4 linked regions of the Homo sapiens genome follow. The protein of the gene in region 4 purifies or fractionates together with the protein of the main gene of each other region. This does not show direct contact. Each region holds a gene or a part of one and is shown on either strand. Other genes may lie near its edges.

The links.
Region 1: the proteins of NT5C2 (region 4) and PFKP fractionate together in Homo sapiens (co-fractionation; one large-scale study listed by BioGRID). This does not show direct contact.
Region 2: the proteins of NT5C2 (region 4) and KIFBP fractionate together in Homo sapiens (co-fractionation; one large-scale study listed by BioGRID). This does not show direct contact.
Region 3: the proteins of NT5C2 (region 4) and HERC4 fractionate together in Homo sapiens (co-fractionation; one large-scale study listed by BioGRID). This does not show direct contact.

What each region holds. Positions count from the first base shown.
Region 1 is NC_000010.11:3,097,680-3,102,787, reverse strand, and holds part of PFKP (ATP-dependent 6-phosphofructokinase, platelet type), read right to left. Parts: intron 3,514-5,108; coding exon 3,436-3,513; intron 1,868-3,435; coding exon of another isoform or gene 1,788-1,867; intron 1,424-1,787; coding exon 1,234-1,423; intron 1-1,233. UniProt on the Homo sapiens protein: Catalyzes the phosphorylation of D-fructose 6-phosphate to fructose 1,6-bisphosphate by ATP, the first committing step of glycolysis.
Region 2 is NC_000010.11:68,998,803-69,002,302, forward strand, and holds part of KIFBP (KIF-binding protein), read left to right. Parts: intron 1-1,621; coding exon 1,622-1,720; intron 1,721-3,500. UniProt on the Homo sapiens protein: Activator of KIF1B plus-end-directed microtubule motor activity. Required for organization of axonal microtubules, and axonal outgrowth and maintenance during peripheral and central nervous system development.
Region 3 is NC_000010.11:68,072,484-68,076,751, reverse strand, and holds the start of HERC4 (probable E3 ubiquitin-protein ligase HERC4), read left to right. Parts: upstream 1-1,468; 5' UTR 1,469-1,608; exon of another isoform or gene 1,609-3,065; 5' UTR 3,066-3,095; exon of another isoform or gene 3,096-3,565; 5' UTR 3,566-3,643; coding exon 3,644-3,869; intron 3,870-4,268. UniProt on the Homo sapiens protein: Probable E3 ubiquitin-protein ligase involved in either protein trafficking or in the distribution of cellular structures. Required for spermatozoon maturation and fertility, and for the removal of the cytoplasmic droplet of the spermatozoon.
Region 4 is NC_000010.11:103,182,373-103,187,480, forward strand, and holds part of NT5C2 (cytosolic purine 5'-nucleotidase), read right to left. Parts: intron 4,875-5,108; exon of another isoform or gene 4,753-4,874; intron 1-4,752. UniProt on the Homo sapiens protein: Broad specificity cytosolic 5'-nucleotidase that catalyzes the dephosphorylation of 6-hydroxypurine nucleoside 5'-monophosphates.

The sequences.
Region 1 (5,108 bases), about 100 Mb from region 4:
TCTCATCGAGTTGCTGTTAAACAATATGCTTCCCTGGTCATATTTAATATTGCACTGAAATTACATAACCGCTTCAAGGGAGAAAAACTACACTTTGGGAGGCCGAAGCGGGTGGATGACCTGAGGTCAGGAGTTCGAGACCAGCCTGGCCAACATGGCGAAACCCTATCTCTACTAAAAATAAAAAATAAATAAAAAAATTTTAAAAAAGCTGGGTGTGGTGGCGCATGCCTGTAATCCCAGCTGCTTGGGAGGCTGAGGCAGGAGAATTGCTTGAACCCAGGAGGCAGATGTTGCAGTGAGCCGAGATCGTGCCACTGCACTCCAGCCTGGGCAATGGAGAAAGACTCTGTCTCAAAACAAACAAAATCAAACAATCAAACAAAACAAAAATAAACCACATACACACAGGGCTCTCAGAAACGCTTTCCTAAGTAGTGCCAAAGTTGGTACTGGATGATGTATTGGCAGAGATTTATCGTCTAAATAAATTAAAGTCCTGTGGCAACTTCAGTTTTTTTTTTTTTTTTTTTTTTTGAGACAGAGTCTCGCTCTGTCGCCCAGGCTGGAGTGCAGTGGCGGGACCTCGGCTCACTGCAAGCTCCGCCTCCCGGGTTCACGCCATTCTCCTGCCTCAGCCTCCCAAGTAGCTGGGACTACAGGCGCCCGCCACTACGCCCGGCTAATTTTTTGTATTTTTAGTAGAGACGGGGTTTCACCGTTTTAGCCGGGATGGTCTCGATCTCCTGACCTCGTGATCCGCCCGCCTCGGCCTCCCAAAGTGCTGGGATTACAGGCGTGAGCCACCGCGCCCGGCCCAACTTCAGTTTTAAAGGACCCCAGCGAGCTGGAGGGACACAGTGTGAGGGCTGAAAGGCGGATGCTAGTGTCCCAGGCTGCTGGGGACCCGGCTCGCCCCACGGCTGAGTGGCCGTTTGATTCCTCATCTGTAAATGGGATGATCTAAAACCTGGCTTAGATGGCTGTCGTGAGGATTCCATAAAGCTATCTGTGTGAAAGGTCGAAGGGTGCCTGGCACATGGTAAGGTTAAATTACTAGCATTCTTACGATCATTGCTGTTGTTTTTTGAGATCCTAAAAAGTCCTGAGATGGTGACCTGTAAGATCTGTGAGAAGAGGTACTTCTGCCACAGTGAAGAGGGAAACCTGTCGGTTCCAAAGCTCTGAAACAGGGCGAAAACCCGCAGGACAGAGGAGCAGGTGTCCACTCACCGTTCCTGGCCAGCTCCTCCAGCAGCCCACTCCACTCCTTCCGGAAGAGGTTGGCCCCGGTGAGGCTCCCGTCCCCGCCGATCACACACAGGTTGGTGATGCCGCGCTGCAGCAGGTTGCAAGCAGCCTTCAGGCGGCCTTCCCGCGTGCGGAAGGCCTGGCACCGCGCACTGCCAATGATCGTCCCGCCCTGGGAAAGACACCAGCTAATTTATCTCCTCTCAGTCTGAGAGAGCGCCAGGTGGATGGCACACACAGGCCGACTATAAACATGGGGTGCTAGAATTTACATTTTTCTCATTTTCATCTTGTGAGTTAGTAACTAGCTATGAAAGACTGTGATTTTCCTGTTTTTAGTCCCAGACCAGCATTCCATGGACAAAGACAGGCGCGTGACACCCAGGAGGAGCCAGGGAGGGTGCAGAGCCAGACACACGGCAGCCAGCAGTTAAATACATGGAGCAGGAACCAGCCTGCGGTGTCACAGCAGCCGCCTCAGCACCGGCCAACGAGCTCAACCAGGTGCACGTGGAACCAAAGACAAGCCCACTGACCACCAGAGCATGCCGGCCAGGACAAGGGAAGCGGTGTGACCAGCAGCCAGGCTTCTCCCTCCAGTCACCCCTTACAGCACCTGCAAGTAAAACCAGCAGGAACCTGGGGCCAGGGGGATTTTTTTTTTTTTTTTTTTTGCACCACATACTCGCTGCCCCTTTTAAAGAGCTATATCTTCAGGATCTTAAATTCTTTCATCCAAACTTCCAGGGGACATAGATCATGATTCGTCACACTTGGTTTTCCAAAAACTAAGAATTGTTGGTGGGATCCACAAATGCAAGATTTCTTTAAATAAAACCATGAATGCACCAAAAAACTCCATCCGTACGGGATCCCTAAGCGCGTGCTGACTTTGTCAAGCAAGGTGCTCATAAGCACAGCAGGGGTTGTCTCTGCACTGGAGGCGAAGCTCTCCCTGCCTTCGGTCTGCAGGCAGCTCCCAGGAGACCCCTGCAGTGACGTGAGTGCGTGTTTCGATACACCAATGGTGCACGCACACAGCTCATTTTCACACACAGAGACTCACTAATATTCCAAATCCCAGAAAAGCTCCTATTTTTACATGAAACCTACCACCATTTAATTTATCAAAACATTATGAAAAGGTTACAAAAACTGAAATTCACTCCACACGATCCTACGTCACTGGCACCAAGTGTGACCGAGACCATTTACAACCCAACCCCCAAGGCAAGTGAGGGTGGGGGCGCAGAGCAGGGCAGGGGTGCTCTCTGGACTCTGCCTGGACAAAAACCTGGGGGGCAGCACGAGAGCCAGCACAATGGGAGCTAGAGCCAGCAACCCAGAAACTCCAACCAAAGAGACGAGGTGGCCGCAACTCAGGAACGAAACCAGGATAACTGGGCTGCAGAGGAGTGGGTGCCATTCCCATTCTCTCACTCACTCTCTTTCACACACACACACACACACACACACACACCACACACCTACACATACAAGGACACCACATATACACACACCCCACACACAGATACACATTCGCTAGCCAGAAATTCACACAGTTAACACATACACACGGGCACACCACACATACACACTCAGACTCACACACCTACATACAGACACACACCAGACTCACACAGTTACACACACACCGAGATTCACACACCACATACACCACACACAGAAACACAGACTCACTGATACACATACGCACTTCAACTCTCCGTTCACATCTTATCTTCCTCCGTCAATCACGACCGCAGAATGGAAACGCTCCCCTGTGTGAATTCAGCCCACACTCTCCTGATGTTTTGCAAACGTTGCTCCACCTAACTTCCGTGGTTGTCAAAATTCCCTCCACCTCTCTTCTGATGTGTCGGAGCTCAGGAGGCGCCCAATGCAGAGAGAGCCTGGACCAGCACGAAGGTGTGGGCCCCATGAGCGTCTTCAGCGGGGAGGCACCGATTTGGATTATTTCTATTAACAAGTACTCAAAGTGACTCACAGATTAACACATGCATTTCTAAAAATCAAACCACAAGTAAAGAGCTGCTCACAAAGTCTGTTCTGTCCACATAATCTCTATTTCGCAACTGATCTGAGCTCAAGTGTTCTGGGAATTTACTAGACATAAAAGAGTCTCTAACTCAGAGAACCCTGTGGACGCAGCCCAGTACCTACCACTTGCAGGATGCTGGAGACACTCTCCCAGTCGGCCTCTGCGATGTTTGAGCCTCCGTCCACCATGCCCTGGTAGCCCTAGGGGAGAAAGGGAGAATCTTTTAAAAATGAGATAAACTTCACTAAATGGGAAGTGATCCTTAAATTATATAAAACGGGAAAAATGACAGTGAATGTCAGTTCCTCAGCATCCACTGGTCAGAAGACAGGGCAGTTCCAGCACTGGATAAAAGCAGTGAATTGTGGGAAAGTCCTCACCTTGAGTCCCTAGTAATGGGAACGTCTGCCTAGACTCAGCCTCACAGTGCAATGAGGAATCAAGCCATTCTCCTATGGCCCAGCGTTTCCCGAGAGGTTGAAAGGGTCGTGTTTCGCTAGAGGTTGAAAGGGGTCACTTTCACCCAACGTGTTTATCATACTTCAGCACAAACTCACAGGCACACAGCACTGTCGAGCACGGGACATACATGGGAGCATTTTGTCAGGGGCTCCGCCTGCCAAGGCACCCTGCGCCACTTGGGATGTATGTTGAATATTATTAAACAGCACAGCTGAATAATAATTGTCTGCCTTACCCTCCATTAATGACACGGTGCTGCATTAGGGAATCAGATATCAATATGTGAGGACACATTGATAGAAGAAGCCCAAGGACAATTACCTTTTTTTTTTTTTTTTTTGAGACGGAGTCTCACTCTGTCACCCAGGCTGGAGTGCAGTGGCGCGATCTCGGCTCACTGCAACCTGCCTCCCGGGTTGAAGTGATTCTCCTGCCTCAGCCTCCTGAGCAGCTGGGATTACAGGTGCCTGCCACTGCACCTGGCTAATTTTTGTAGCTTTTAGTAGAGACGGGGCTTCACCTTGTTGGCCATGCTGGTCTCAAACTCCTGACCTCATGATCCGCCTGCCTCAGCCTCCCAAAGTGCTGGAATTACAGGCGTGAGCCACCGCGCCTGGCCAACAATTACCTTTCAATGCTAAATGCATCCCCATCTTTTTCTCCACGGAATATACAAGATCAGGAAATGCAGCAATGCCCACGGGTAACTTCATCTACATAACTCACTTTCCACAGCATTTAATCTTAAGAAGGAATAACTATTAAGGATTTAGAAAAGTTCATGATAGATTATTGTTGGATCCATAAGCCCACCTTAGTGAAGGTCCGGAGGACAGAAAAAAGAAAGGTTTTTAAAATTGAAATGACTCATAGATTATGGAGTTCTATATATAAATTAATCAATAGTGCAGGCACCTTGATAGCTGGCCAATTTGTATACTTATATTTATAAATTTCTACCAGAAATATTATATATATATGTGTGTTTATTTTATTTTATTTTTGAGACAGAGTCTTGCTCTGTTGCCCAGGCTGGAGTGCAGTGGCACGATCTCGGCTCACTGCAACTTACATCTCCCAGGTTCAAGCAATTCTCCTGCCTCAGCCTCCAGAGTACTTGGGATTACAGGAACACACTACCACATCTGGCTAATTTTGTTTTTGTTTTAAAGTAGTGACAGGGTTTCACCATGTTGGCCAGGCTGGTTTCCAACTCTTGACCTCAAGTGATCTGCCTGCCTGGGCCTCCCAAAGTGCTGGGATTACAGGCGTGAGCCACCATGCCTGGCCACATGTGTGTTTATAATTTAGTGTCATACATGTAATAAACAAG
Region 2 (3,500 bases), about 34 Mb from region 4:
TCTCAATCTGTAGCCCAGGCTGGAGTGCAGTGGCACGATCTCGGCTCACTGTAACCTCCACCTCCTGGGTTCAAGCAATTCTTCTGCCTCAGCCTCCCAAGTAGTTGGGATTACAGGCATCTGCCACCACACTCGGCTAAATTTTTTTTGTATTTTTCAGTAGAGATGGGGTTTCACCACGTTGGCCAGGCTGGTCTCGAACTCCTGACCTCAAGTGATCTGCCTACTTCGGCCTCCCAAAGTGCTGGGATTACAGGTGTGAGCCACTGTGCCGGGCCCATATATATAATTTTTTGGTTTTGGTTTTGTTTTTGAGACAGAGTCTTGCTCCATCACCCAGGTAGGAGTGCAATGGCACGATCTCGGCTCACTGCAACCTCTGCCTCCCAGGTTCAGGCAGTTCTCGTGCCTCAGCCCCCCAAGCAGCTGGGATTACAGGTGCACGCCACCACTCCTGGCTAATTTTTATGTTTTTAGTAGAGATGGGGTTTCACCATTTTGGCCAGGCCGGTCTTGAACTTCTCGCCTCAAGTGATCTGCCTGCCTCGGCCTCCCAAAGTGCTAGAATTACAGGCGTGAGCCACCATGCCTGGCCTATTTCTTTTTTTTTTAAAAAAAAAGTTCTCTGGAAGAGCATAGTATTTTGAAAGTATTATATGTTTCTGATCCATCTTTGTCTATTATCTCAGAATCTCACCATGGCTTAGCTGATTGTTCCTTACTCAAAGGCCCACATCATATTGTTGACCTGCTGGGGCTCGCAGTAATACTTGAAGACTGGGACGCCGGGAGGATCCATTTCCAACTTACTCACATGGTTGTTGGCAGGATTCAGTTCCTCACAGGCTTTTTGACTGAGGGCCTCAGACTGTTGACCTCTCTCATTTCCTTTCCATATGGGCTTCTCCATAGGGTGGCTCACAACATGGCAGTTGGCTTCCTTAAGAAGGAGCAGGCAATTGACCGGGCGCGGTGGCTGACGCCTGTAATCCCAGCACTTTGGGAGGCTGAGGTGGGTGGATCATGAGGTCAGGAGATTGAGACCATCCTGGCTAAAACGGTGAAACCCCGTCTCTACTAAAAATACAAAAAATTAGCCGGGCGTGATTGCGGGCGCCTGTAGTCCCAGCTACTTGGGAGGCTGAGGCAGAAGAATGGTATGAACCTGGGAGGCAGAGCTTGCAGTGAGCTGAGACCATGCCACTGCACTCCATCCTGGGCGACAGAGCGAGACTCCGTCTCAAAAAAAAAAAAAAAAAAAAAGCAGGCAATAGATAGCATCCAAAATGGAAATCAAGGGTTTTGTTAACTAATCTTGGAAATGACTTTCCATCACTTCTGTGATAGTCTAGTCGTGAGAAGCACATCACTAAAACCAGCCTGTACTCAAGGGGAAGAGGTTACCTAAGAGCATGAATACCCCGAAGCAGGGATCATTGGGGGTTAATTTTAGCAGCTACCTGCTGCACTACATAAGGTCAATATCATTGTGAATAATTAATTCATTGGTAATCCAACTCTACTATTTGGTTGGTTATAAGTATTGACTTCAAAACTATGAAAGTTACTTTAATTGGAAGTCTTATATCATTGTTTGTTTCTCTTTTTCTTTATTTTCCAGAATAACCTGGGTATCTTGTGGTCTGAAAGAGAAGAAATTGAAACTGCACAGGCTTACCTAGAGTCATCAGAAGCACTATATAATCAGTATATGAAAGAGGTATGTTACATGTCAGATGAGTTTTAAGTTTTGATTGAAACTAGTTAAGAATTGATAGTAAGAATCCCTCATTCGTAATATTGGTGTGACTCTTCACTGTGCCCTAGAACTTCTCTATAGAGCCATCTGGGAAGTCACCTCATAGCTGAAATTATTGCATATTAAAGACTTCAGGGTTTTAAAAAAATAATCCTTGTATAGGACATAATGGCCACCTAGTCTAAATACAATTATAAAGGAAATATTATTCTAGTGTTATCCTAAAATACTATTTGCATGTTTTTGTATTTATAATCTAAACATTCTATTTTAGTTTTCCATGAAAATAGCACTACTTGAAGGAAACAAGAACTACTTTAACAAAACATCTGAAATCTTTGAAGCAATGGTTCTCAAATGTTAGCACCCATCAAAATCTGGAGAGCTCATGAAAGCACAGCAGACTGGGCATCCAGGCTCTGATTTAGTAGTTCTGGGGTGGGGCCTAGGAATTTGCATTTTTAATAAGATCCTGCCTGGGTGATGCTTAAATGCTGCTGGTCTAAGTACTATACTGTACTTTGAGAACCACTGCTTCAGGGCAATGGTTTTTCAATGATTTTTTTTTTTTTTAACCCGTGAAACCCTTCTGAAAATGCAGCATATAAAAATTGATTGAGTTACTCTGGTTAAGCAGGTTAGAAGGACCCAGAGCCCACTCCACTACAGATTCTTCCTCCTCCCCACTGCAGTAGCACAAAAGAGATGCTGTAGAACTTTTAGGGGTCTGGGGAGCCAACATTGAAAACTCTCACTTTAGGGGTCACAGCCTGCAAAGGTGACAAGCCACTGTGTTACCATCTGTTTCCTTAATAAACTTTTTTTTAATATGAAAGGGAAATAATCAGGCACAATATTTTCTTGTGGATTACTATTTGTCACAGCTATCTGCTTTAAAAATCCATTAATACGGCTGAGCATGGTGGCTCATGCCTGTAATCCCAGCATTTTGGGAGGCCGAGGCAGGTGGATCACTTGAGATCAGGAATTCGAGACCAGCTTGGGCAACATGGTGAAATCCCATCTCTACTAAAAATACAAAACAGCAGGCATGGTGGCGCACGCCTGTAGTCCCAGCTACTCAGGAGACTGAGGCAGGAGAATCGTTTGAACCTGGGAGGCAGAGGCTGCAGTGAACTGAGATCACGCCACTGCACTCCGGCCTGGGCGACAGTGAGACCCTGTCTCAAAAAAAAAAAAAATCCATTAATAAAGTGCTTTTATAACATTAAAAAAGTTGAAATAACATTAGATATCACATAAAAGAGACTAAACATACAAAATTATGTTTGCTAAATTCATGCGTCAGAATGCTTGACTGCAAAAGGATATAAGAAGCTTGGTATGCCTGTAATCCCAGCACTTTGGGAGGCTGAGGCTGGAGGATCACTTGAGCCCAGGAGTTTGAGACCAGCCTGCGCAACACAGGAAGACCTCATCACTACAAAAAATTAAAAAATTTGCCAGATGTGGCACACACTGTAGTTTTAGCTACTTGGGAGATTGAGGCAGGAGGGTCGCTTGAGCCCAGGAGTTTGAGGTTGCAGTGAGCTATCATCGAACCACTGTACTCCAGCCTGGGTGACAGAGCAAGATTCTGTCTTTTTTTTTTTTTTGAGATGGAGTCTCGCTCTGTTGTCCAGGCTGGAGTGCAGTGGCGTGATCTCGGCTCACTGCAACCTCCACCTCTTGAGTTCAAGTAATTCTCCTGCCTCAGCCTCCCAAGTGGCTGAGATTATAG
Region 3 (4,268 bases), about 35 Mb from region 4:
ATCTGGTGTCCTTATAAAAGAGGGAAATTTGGACAGACACACAGGGAAAACAAGGTGAAGAGGGATGCTTCTACAAGGATTGCCAAGGATTGTTGGCAACCACCAGAAGCTAGCAGAGAAGCCTGGAAAAGATTATCTCTCAGAGACCCCAAGAGAGAACCAAGCTTACTTTCACCTTGATTTTGAACTGGTCTTCAGAACTGTGAGACAATAAATTTCTGTTGTTTTAAGCCACCGAATCTGTTTTAATTTATATGGCAAGCCTAGGACACGAATACACACACTTGAACATATTCTAGCACAGACAGTTCTTATCTAAAACATGTTTTTCAACAAGAGATAAAGAAACAGGCCAGGACCGGTGGCTCACGCCTGTAATTCCAGCACTTTGGGAGGCCGAGGCGGGTGGATCGCCTGAGGTAACGAGTTTGAGACCAGCCTGGCCAATATGGCGAAACCTTGTCTCTACTAAAAATGCAAAAATTAGCCGGGCATGGCGGCGCATGCCCGTTGTCCCAGCTACTCAGGAGGCTAAGGCGGAAGTTCCAGTGAACTGAGATCGCACCATTGCACTCCAGCCTTGGGGAACAGAGCGAGACTCTGTCTCAATAAATAAATAAATAAATAAATAAATAAAAATAAGAAAAGAAAAAGAAAGATGGCCTATTTGTGGAACTTCTTCTAGGTACTGAATATTCATTCTAGCAATACCCAACTTACAATTTCAAAAGTGCATTGTTTCAAGTTCTCCTGCTTTTTAAGAAGTTAAGGCTGGCCTAGGAGATCCAGACTTCGTTTTTATGAATCAGGGACTGCAGCCAATGTGTAATTTTCTCTGATAGAATGAGACCCTGCAATTCAAGCCTATCTTTCAGGGAGAGTGTAGAAAGTGATGGTAGCCAACACTGTACAAGGAAACTGAACTGGTGGTGGTGGTAGTAGAGTAGCTTCAGCCATTGCCATCAACACATCTCACATCCTCAGACTGGCTCCAGTTGAGGCCATGGGATAAAATAACTCTTCACCAGTCTTTATGTTCATAATTGTGATGTTTCATCTGCTACTTTAAAATCTCCTTGGGAAAAGAGAGAGTAAAATAATAAAAAGACTAGCTAGCATCCATGAGCACAAAGACAACCAAACCAAAAAACAAAGTGATTTTCTTCATTAAAAGGCTTTGTGCACGCCGAAGCATTCTCAAAAACAGTTGACATCTTCTTCGTTTGTCTTCGCAAACTCCAACTTTCTGTATTTGGCTTTTCCCTCTTAAAGCAACGCAAAGCGGCACACTGCGCAGGCGCCTGTGGCCAGCCACCCCCCCCCCCCCCCCCCCGGAAGATTCGGCGCAGGCGCCGGTGCCGGGGCCGGGAAGTGGGCGGGCTCGCGCGCGTGCTCTGCGGTTCACTTCCGGCCAGCCCCTCCCCCGCCTCCCTCGCGTGGCCACCTCCCCCTCTGCCTTCTCCTACCCAGTCTCTTCCCCAACTCTCCCCACCCCTGGTGCTCTCCGCCCCGCTTGCCTCCCGTTCTTCCCCGCCCGCTCCATCCGGGTCGCTGACGGCTGTCTCTGGACTGGACAGCAGTGGCGTCCGCTTTTCTCTAAGGAACCCGGTAAAGTTTCCCAGGGGCCGGGGAGGGGAGCAGCGGAGCAGCGGCACAGACGCCGGAGGTGCCCTGGTGATCGTCGCCACTGGCTGACAGAGGAGGGTCCCAGGAGCCGGAGACGTGCTTCAGCGACCGCGCTGCCTTGCTCTCTGGGCAGGGGCCGCCCCCCGTCACCTTGGGCTTCCCCTACCCTGAAGGGCTTGGGCGAGTTGTGGCCCCAGCGGGTTCGGGGGCGTGTGACGGCGTTAGGGAGGGGCAGGCCGGGCTGGGCGGATGCAGGCCGGCCCGGCATAGGGCGCTTTCTCCGCGCTTCCTGGGGGTGAGGGGCGTGGGGCGAGGGCAGGGCTGTGGCTCCCTGGCCCCGGGGCTGGAATGTCTCATCTGCCTGGGGATGGGCTTCTCTCAGGTTGAGGCCGCGCACTGCCAAGCCTCGGCCGCCGGCCTCTGAAGCTGTTGCGAGCGGCCGGTTGCGGTAGTCGTCTGCTTGGCTGCGAGGTTGGGTGTGTGCAGATGATTTCTCTTTCCCAGTCCCCATGAGCTGATCTGGGTGCACGTTCAGGGAAAGACGGGACTAAACTGCTTCTCATTTCCCTACCTGTTGCTGGCGAGAGGACGCCTCTGTGTTTTAAAGAAAAGGGTGGTTAAACCTCGCGCGCTGAAGTCGGGGTATTTTCCTGTATTACTCTTATTTTGTTTTTAAATATGGGAAGACAATGCAGAACTCTTGGGAATTATCGAGTTCTGATACCCCAAAAGAATGAAATCAAACTTCTGTTAATGGGATGATGGGTCGTGGAATGGGACACCTTGGGCACTTGCTAACAGGAACATAGGAAAATTGGAGTTGAAACTTCGCAGGCTCTGTAAGAATGTGGATGACTGCTACAGAATAAGGCTGACTTCCTGTAATTATGATATTTAGTAACGCGATGTGTTTAAAAGTCTACGTATGTATAGATGAAGTGGACTCTGTTATTTGTGTCTTTCTTTACAAGTGAGGAAATATTCAGTCAGTGTGCTGGAAAGTTCTACAGATTTCGCCATCAGACTATCCATTCCTATTCTTGAAAAATCTGCAGTGCTGGAGTTATTTGCAATTCCCCCCCGCCAATCTTTAAATAATTGTCTCAGAGATATAGATAGATATAGATTGCCCACGGGTGATTTTTTTAATCCCGGTTACCACTTGTAATAAAAGAGGTTGAATTTTGGAGAGAATTGATATTTAAATTGCATGTTTTTTTTTCTGTATTATAATTATGCACATTGATTTAGTTTTAAAATTAGTGAGGTTGGAATGTTAGTATTTTGATTTGAAATCTGGGATCTTTGGAGGTGATTTAAGATTATGGTTTGGTAAGAGAATCTTCATTTTCTCTCTGGGCTAAAGAGTAATTGGGAGAGTCGTTTAAATTGTGGAAAATTGCTTTAAATTTCCATTATTGGTTTTATTTCTGTTACAGATAAGAACTCCATTTTCTGTTGATGTGGAGGTAGGTATTAGAAAGCTTAATTATACTAGGATTGCAAGGTTATGTTTCTGCAGTTGGCTAAATTTTGCACTGTGTATATTTGCTTTTTGGGCAGAGGAAAGATGTCTTATTTCTTGTTCCCATTGAAATTATTTAAAGCAAAAAGTAGAAAAAATTGTGATTAATTTCATCAAGGTACTTATTCCTATTAGTTTAGTCTATCACAAGATAACCAGAAGTCAAAACTAGTTAATATGTTTTAAATTTTGCAAAGGATCATAGAAAGTGTCATATTTTCCCTAAAAATTTCTGTATGATACATTTTAAAAAATACAACTGATTGGTTTTTGAAACTGAATGATACTTATGTAGCATGTTATAAAGTATATTTAATGTTTACCATGTAGCAATTATTGTAGCCTAGCACTTGAAAGAGCAATTATACATCCTTTTTTCTTTGAAGTCATATTAACTTCTTTCTATTTCCTCAGACATAGGGTACCTCCAACTTTCCGGGGTTTCAGAAGAGAATTTTTTATTGAAACTGGAAGACCAAAATAATTACAAGCATGTTGTGCTGGGGAAATGCATCCTTTGGGCAGCTAGGTTTGGGTGGAATTGATGAAGAAATTGTACTAGAGCCCAGAAAAAGTGACTTCTTTATAAATAAAAGGGTCCGAGATGTAGGATGTGGACTCAGACATACTGTGTTTGTTCTGGATGATGGAACAGTGTACACATGTGGATGTAATGATCTAGGACAGCTAGGTCATGAAAAATCCAGAAAGAAACCAGGTAAGTTGAAATGTTTTTAAAATTTGCTATTTTTAATAATTATATCATTTTAAATTTGAATCATCGTATAATTTCTCTAGTTGTAACTATATGTTTATCAAGCTTTAAAAGCAAAGTAGAAGTTATGTATTTCCATTATATGTGTATATTTGTATGGTTCTAAGTACTTTATGTTGTGGTTTCTTTTTTTTTACTACTAGTATTATAAAACCTTATTTTGTATGACGATATAAAACAATAAAGAAAATCAGCCTGCAGTATATAAATCTTTGGTACAGAGTGTGTAGTGTGCAGGTCCTCTTTAATAAATTCTGTTCAGCCACCCTGGATAGATTTTAAATGCATAATTTACTCTGTGTTTACCTTACTTTGGGAGGGGGGAGGAAAACAAGACGGAAG
Region 4 (5,108 bases):
ACACCTGTAATCCCAGCACTTTGGGAAGCCGAGGCGGGTGGATCATCTGAGGTCAGGAGTTCAAGACCAGCCTGGCCAACATGGTGAAACCCTGTCTACTAAAAATATAAAAAGTAGCCAGGCGTGGTGGCAGGCACCCATAATCCCAGCAACTTGGGAGGGTGAGGCAGGAGAATCACTTGAACCCAGGAGGCAGAGCTTGCAGTGAGCCGAGATCCCGCCACTGTACTCTAGCCTGGGTGACAGAGCAAGACTCCATCTCAAAAAAAAAAAACTAAACTTGGCATTTTTAAGTTTTATAATCAACCATTCATTCTCATTCTAAGAACACTGCCCTAAAACTTACATGGAAAGGATAATTTTGAATAATTTCTTCAAATTTTCTCACCAGCCTGAAACTTATTTTGGTCTCTAAATACAACAACTTTCACTGCATATTACTCATGTTAAACTAGTTTATGGAAAAACAAAAGTTAAAGCTATATCCTCCATTTGTATGCCTCATATTGTACTAAATAGCCACATTTTATTCAGTCTTTGATAACCCTAGTCCTTGGCAGATAAGCAAGTAAAATCAATAACCTATAGTAGTTAGACATTTGGTTTTATCATTATATTGTGCTTAAGGGCCTCTCTGTAACATAGCCACAGACCAACTTACTTACAAATACATCCCCTTAAAAACATGGAAAGTCAGATGCAAGTTTACTTTAATTCATCTACCAGTACTGCTGAAAAACTAAATCCTCATATTTGTAGTTAACAGTGTCACCTATAACTCAAAGAATAGCACTGTGAAATAAGCTATAGCTTTTTTAAGTATTTTGTAACCTTTACTCCTTATCATCACAAAACACATGAAAGGAGATATATATATATGTGTGTGTGTGATATATATATATATATATATATATATATATATCACACACTCCTTCCCTCCCCTCTTTCCTGAAATTATTAGCTTTTTTTTTTTTTTTTTAACAATCTATCCCTCCTTCTTGGAATTACTAGTTTTAAACTGTTCTTTAATAACTCTAATGAATTTTGAAAAATTCCTGCCCCAAATCCCTCTCAATATTGCCTCTGCATCATTCTTCCTTTCTTTTCTTCTACTGCAAAAATAATTAAACAAATGCTTTTTTTTTTTTTTTTTTTTAAAGACGAAGTCTCTTTCGCTCTGTCTTCCAGGCTGGAGTACAGTGGCACCATCTCAGCTCACTGCAAGCTCTGCCTCCTGGGTTCACGCCATATATATATATATACATATACATACACACATACACACACACATATATATATACTTTAAGTGGGGGTGGGAGGAGGGTGAGGGATGAGAAATTACCTGATGAGTACAATGTACACTATTCAGGTGATGGTTACACTAAAAAGCCAGACCACTGCTATGCTATATATCCAAAACTGTACCCCCTAAATCTATAAAAATTAAAAAATAAAATAGTTTAAGATGAAGAAATGCCTATTTTTCCAGAAGGCTCCTTGAAACTGTTGCATTTAAATTATCTTAAATGTTTCATTACCTCTCATCTTTTAAATAGTTCATGATAAGTTTTTGGTTTTTTTTTTTTTTAGTTTTTTTGAGACAGAGTTTCACTCTTGTTGCCCAGGCTGGAGTGCAATGACGCGATCTCGGCTCAATGCAACCTCCGCCTCCCAGATTCAAGCGATTCTCCTGCGTCAGCCTCCCAAGTAGCTGGGATTACAGGCATGAGCCACCACGCCCGGCTAATTTTGTATTTTTAGTACAGACGGGGTTTCACCGTGTTGGTTAGGCTGGTCTCGAATTCCTGACCTCAAGTGATCCACCTGCCTCCCAAAGTGCTGGAATTACAGGAATGTGCCACCGTGCCCAGCCTATAAACAAGTTTTTTTGTTTATTTTTCATTTCATTATTTTCATTCAGAGTTCTTTATGTCACTTGTCCCAAACTGCACTACACATTCCTGTCAAAGGCCAACACTCAATAGTTCACACACCAAAGTGATGCCAACAGTTAACAAACTCCAACTAATAACATCACACTTACCCACACACATCACTCACTGTCCTCTTACCCTGCTTTACTTGTTTTTTGCACATAACCCTTACATTTGACAGTTTGCATTCTGTCAATCTCTCCAAAATATAAGCTCCATAAGGGAGAGGAGTGTTTTATTTGCTGCTGTATCCCCAGCATCTCGCACAGTAGACTTAACAGACAGAAATAAATGAACCATTAAACGTCTACACATGGAGCCCTTTGCTTTTCAGAAGCCTATTTTTGTGTAAGCCTGAAAATGCAAGAATAACTGCAGAAGTCCCTTTTAATACTCTAAATGAATCTTTGTGAAATCTTATTCTTGGTTCACAAATACATAAGATTCTTGGCTTGATTAACATAATATTTTGCTAACATTTCAACATCAGGCCTCGGAACAAAAGCTTCCTTGTTCTCCGAAGGAAAAATAACAAAGTTGAGAAGAGAGAACTTGTCGAGTGAGAAATGCAGTACCTGTTGCCTTGACAATTTGTTTTTCTTCTTCAAGCAGCTACATGCTCCTATCTGTAGTCTGAAATTGTAACTAGAAACTACAAATTTATTTCATCTGTTCCTAAACTTTTGAAAATATACAAAAAAGACTAATTTTGCTATGTTCTCATCAACATTCTATTGCTACTATCCTGCCATATCACATAGAATGCTATATATTTGTTCTACATCAACACATTAAGGCTGCTTCTAACTGAATGTTTTGAATAATACCGGACCTTCAACAATAACATGGTTATTGACACAAAGGAACAAGAGAGCATGTAAGGAAAACATTTTAAAAGACTGAGCTATTTCTTCAAAACGTTGCCATAATTAACTGAGGTCTTCAAAAGCATAAAGGTATAAACCAGCTGTACAATTTTTACATTCAGACGATATATAATACTTTGCACCTTTAGTAATGACTCCTGAATACTCCTTTAAAAAAAAAAAATACATAGGGCAAGGTGCAGTGGCTCACACCTATAATCCCACCACTCTGGGAGGCCAAGCCAGGCGGATCCCTTGAGCCTAGGAGTTCGAGACCAGCCTAAGCAACATGGCAAAACCCCCATCTCTATAAAAACATGCAAAAATTAGACAGGCATGGTGACGGGTGCCTGTAGACCCAGCTACTCGGGAGGCTGAGGTAGGAAGATTGCTTGAGCCGGGAAGGCAGAGATTGCGTGAGCCAAGATCGCACCACTGCACACTCCAGCCTGGACAACAGACAAAGACCCTGTCTCCAAAAAAAAAAAAAAGGAAAAAAAAAAAAAAGCAGGTAAAAAACTGCTTTATTTCAGGAAAGAACTCATTCTCTTACCAATGAACTCCTGCTCACCATTCAACTTTGGTTTAGCTCTTATTTTTCCTGTTACAAAATAATTTAAAAAGATAAAATCGGAAAGGCATAAATAACCACAGACCACAGTATTTCTACCTTTTAATATATAAATTCATACTTAAGGTTTAGTCCACCTATTTGGTTAAAATTCAGAGATATGCATGAGTTCGATGCCTTAATAATGCTAACATAATAACAGCTGACATTTATTGAGTACTTACTATTTTTCATGTATGATTCTAAGCAGCATAGTACATATTTTAACTCACTGACTTTTCAGAACAACCCTATATGTTAGGTACTATTATCCTCATTTTACGAAGAAGTAAACAGGAAAGAGAAGTTAGATAATTTGAAGTCACAGAATTATACTGTGGTTAAGAGTACGGATTCTGGAGCCACACTGCCTGCGTTCAAAACCTGGCTCTAACACCAACTAGCTCTACGACTAAGCAAATTATAAGCACTACAGTTTCTTCCATTGCAAAACAGGTAGAGTTGGAACAAGGATGTAAGGTGCTAAGAACAGTGGCTGAGACATGGAAATTGGTCAATATAAACTGTTTATAATGCTTGAGTGCAAGATGTTTGAATACTTGAAGCCTTAGCACAATACAGTACTTGATGTTTGCAGGAATGAGTAATAGGCTTCTACTTTTGGAGTCAAAACCTCATAGCGTCCATTACGTATCAGAGGCTGTAACAATTTCACACATTTATCACGTCAATTAAAGTATCCTAAATATAAGGACAACTATAGCTATAGGTTTGTTTCCTTTCTTCCTGGAAGCTCTCAGACCTAGAGAGAATTAATTCAAGATTTATTTCACCAAACCTACTTCAAAAGTAAACGAGTAATTCAAGGCTTAAAAAAATGGCATTTACTGGCTGGGTGCGGTGGCTCATGCCTGTAATCCCAGCACTTTGGGAGGCCGAGGCGGGCGGATCACAAGGTACAGAGATCGAGACCATCCTGGCTAACACAGTGAAACCCCGTCTCTACTAAAAATACAAAAAAATAGCCAGGCGTGGTGGCACATGCCTGTAATCCCAGCACTAGGGAGGCTGAGGCAGAGGAACAGCTTGAACCCGGGAGATGGAGGCTGCAGTGAGCTGACATGGAGCCACTGCACTCCAGCCTGGGTGACAGAGCAAGACTCCGTCTCAAAAAAAAAAAAAAAAAGGCATTTACTGACCAGATTTGTGAAAGATTCTAATGTTAGGCCAGGGGCGGTGGTTCACGCCTATAATCCCAGCACTCTGGGAGGCTGAGGTGGGCGGATCACCTGAGGTCAGGAGTTCAAGACCAGCCTGGCCAACAGGGCAAAACCTGTCTCTACTAAAAATACAAAAATTAGCTAGGCATGGTGGCGCATACCTGTAATCCCAGCTACTAGGGAGGCTGAGGCAGGAGAATCGCTTAAACCCAGCAGGCGGAAGTTGCAGTACGCTGAGAGCGCACCTCTACACTCCAGCTTGGGCAACACAGAGAGACTCCACCTTAAAAAAATAAAAAAGGCCAGTTGCAGTGGCTCACATCTGTAATCCCAGCACTTTGGGAGGCTGAGGCGGGTAGATTACAAGGTCAGGAGTTCAAGACCAGCTTGGCCAAAATGAAGAAACTCCATCTCTACTAAAAATAAAATAAAATAAAAAATTAGCCAGGTGTAGTGGTGGGCGCCTGTAATCCCAGCTACTCGGGAGATTAAGGCAGAGAATTGCTTGAACCCGGGA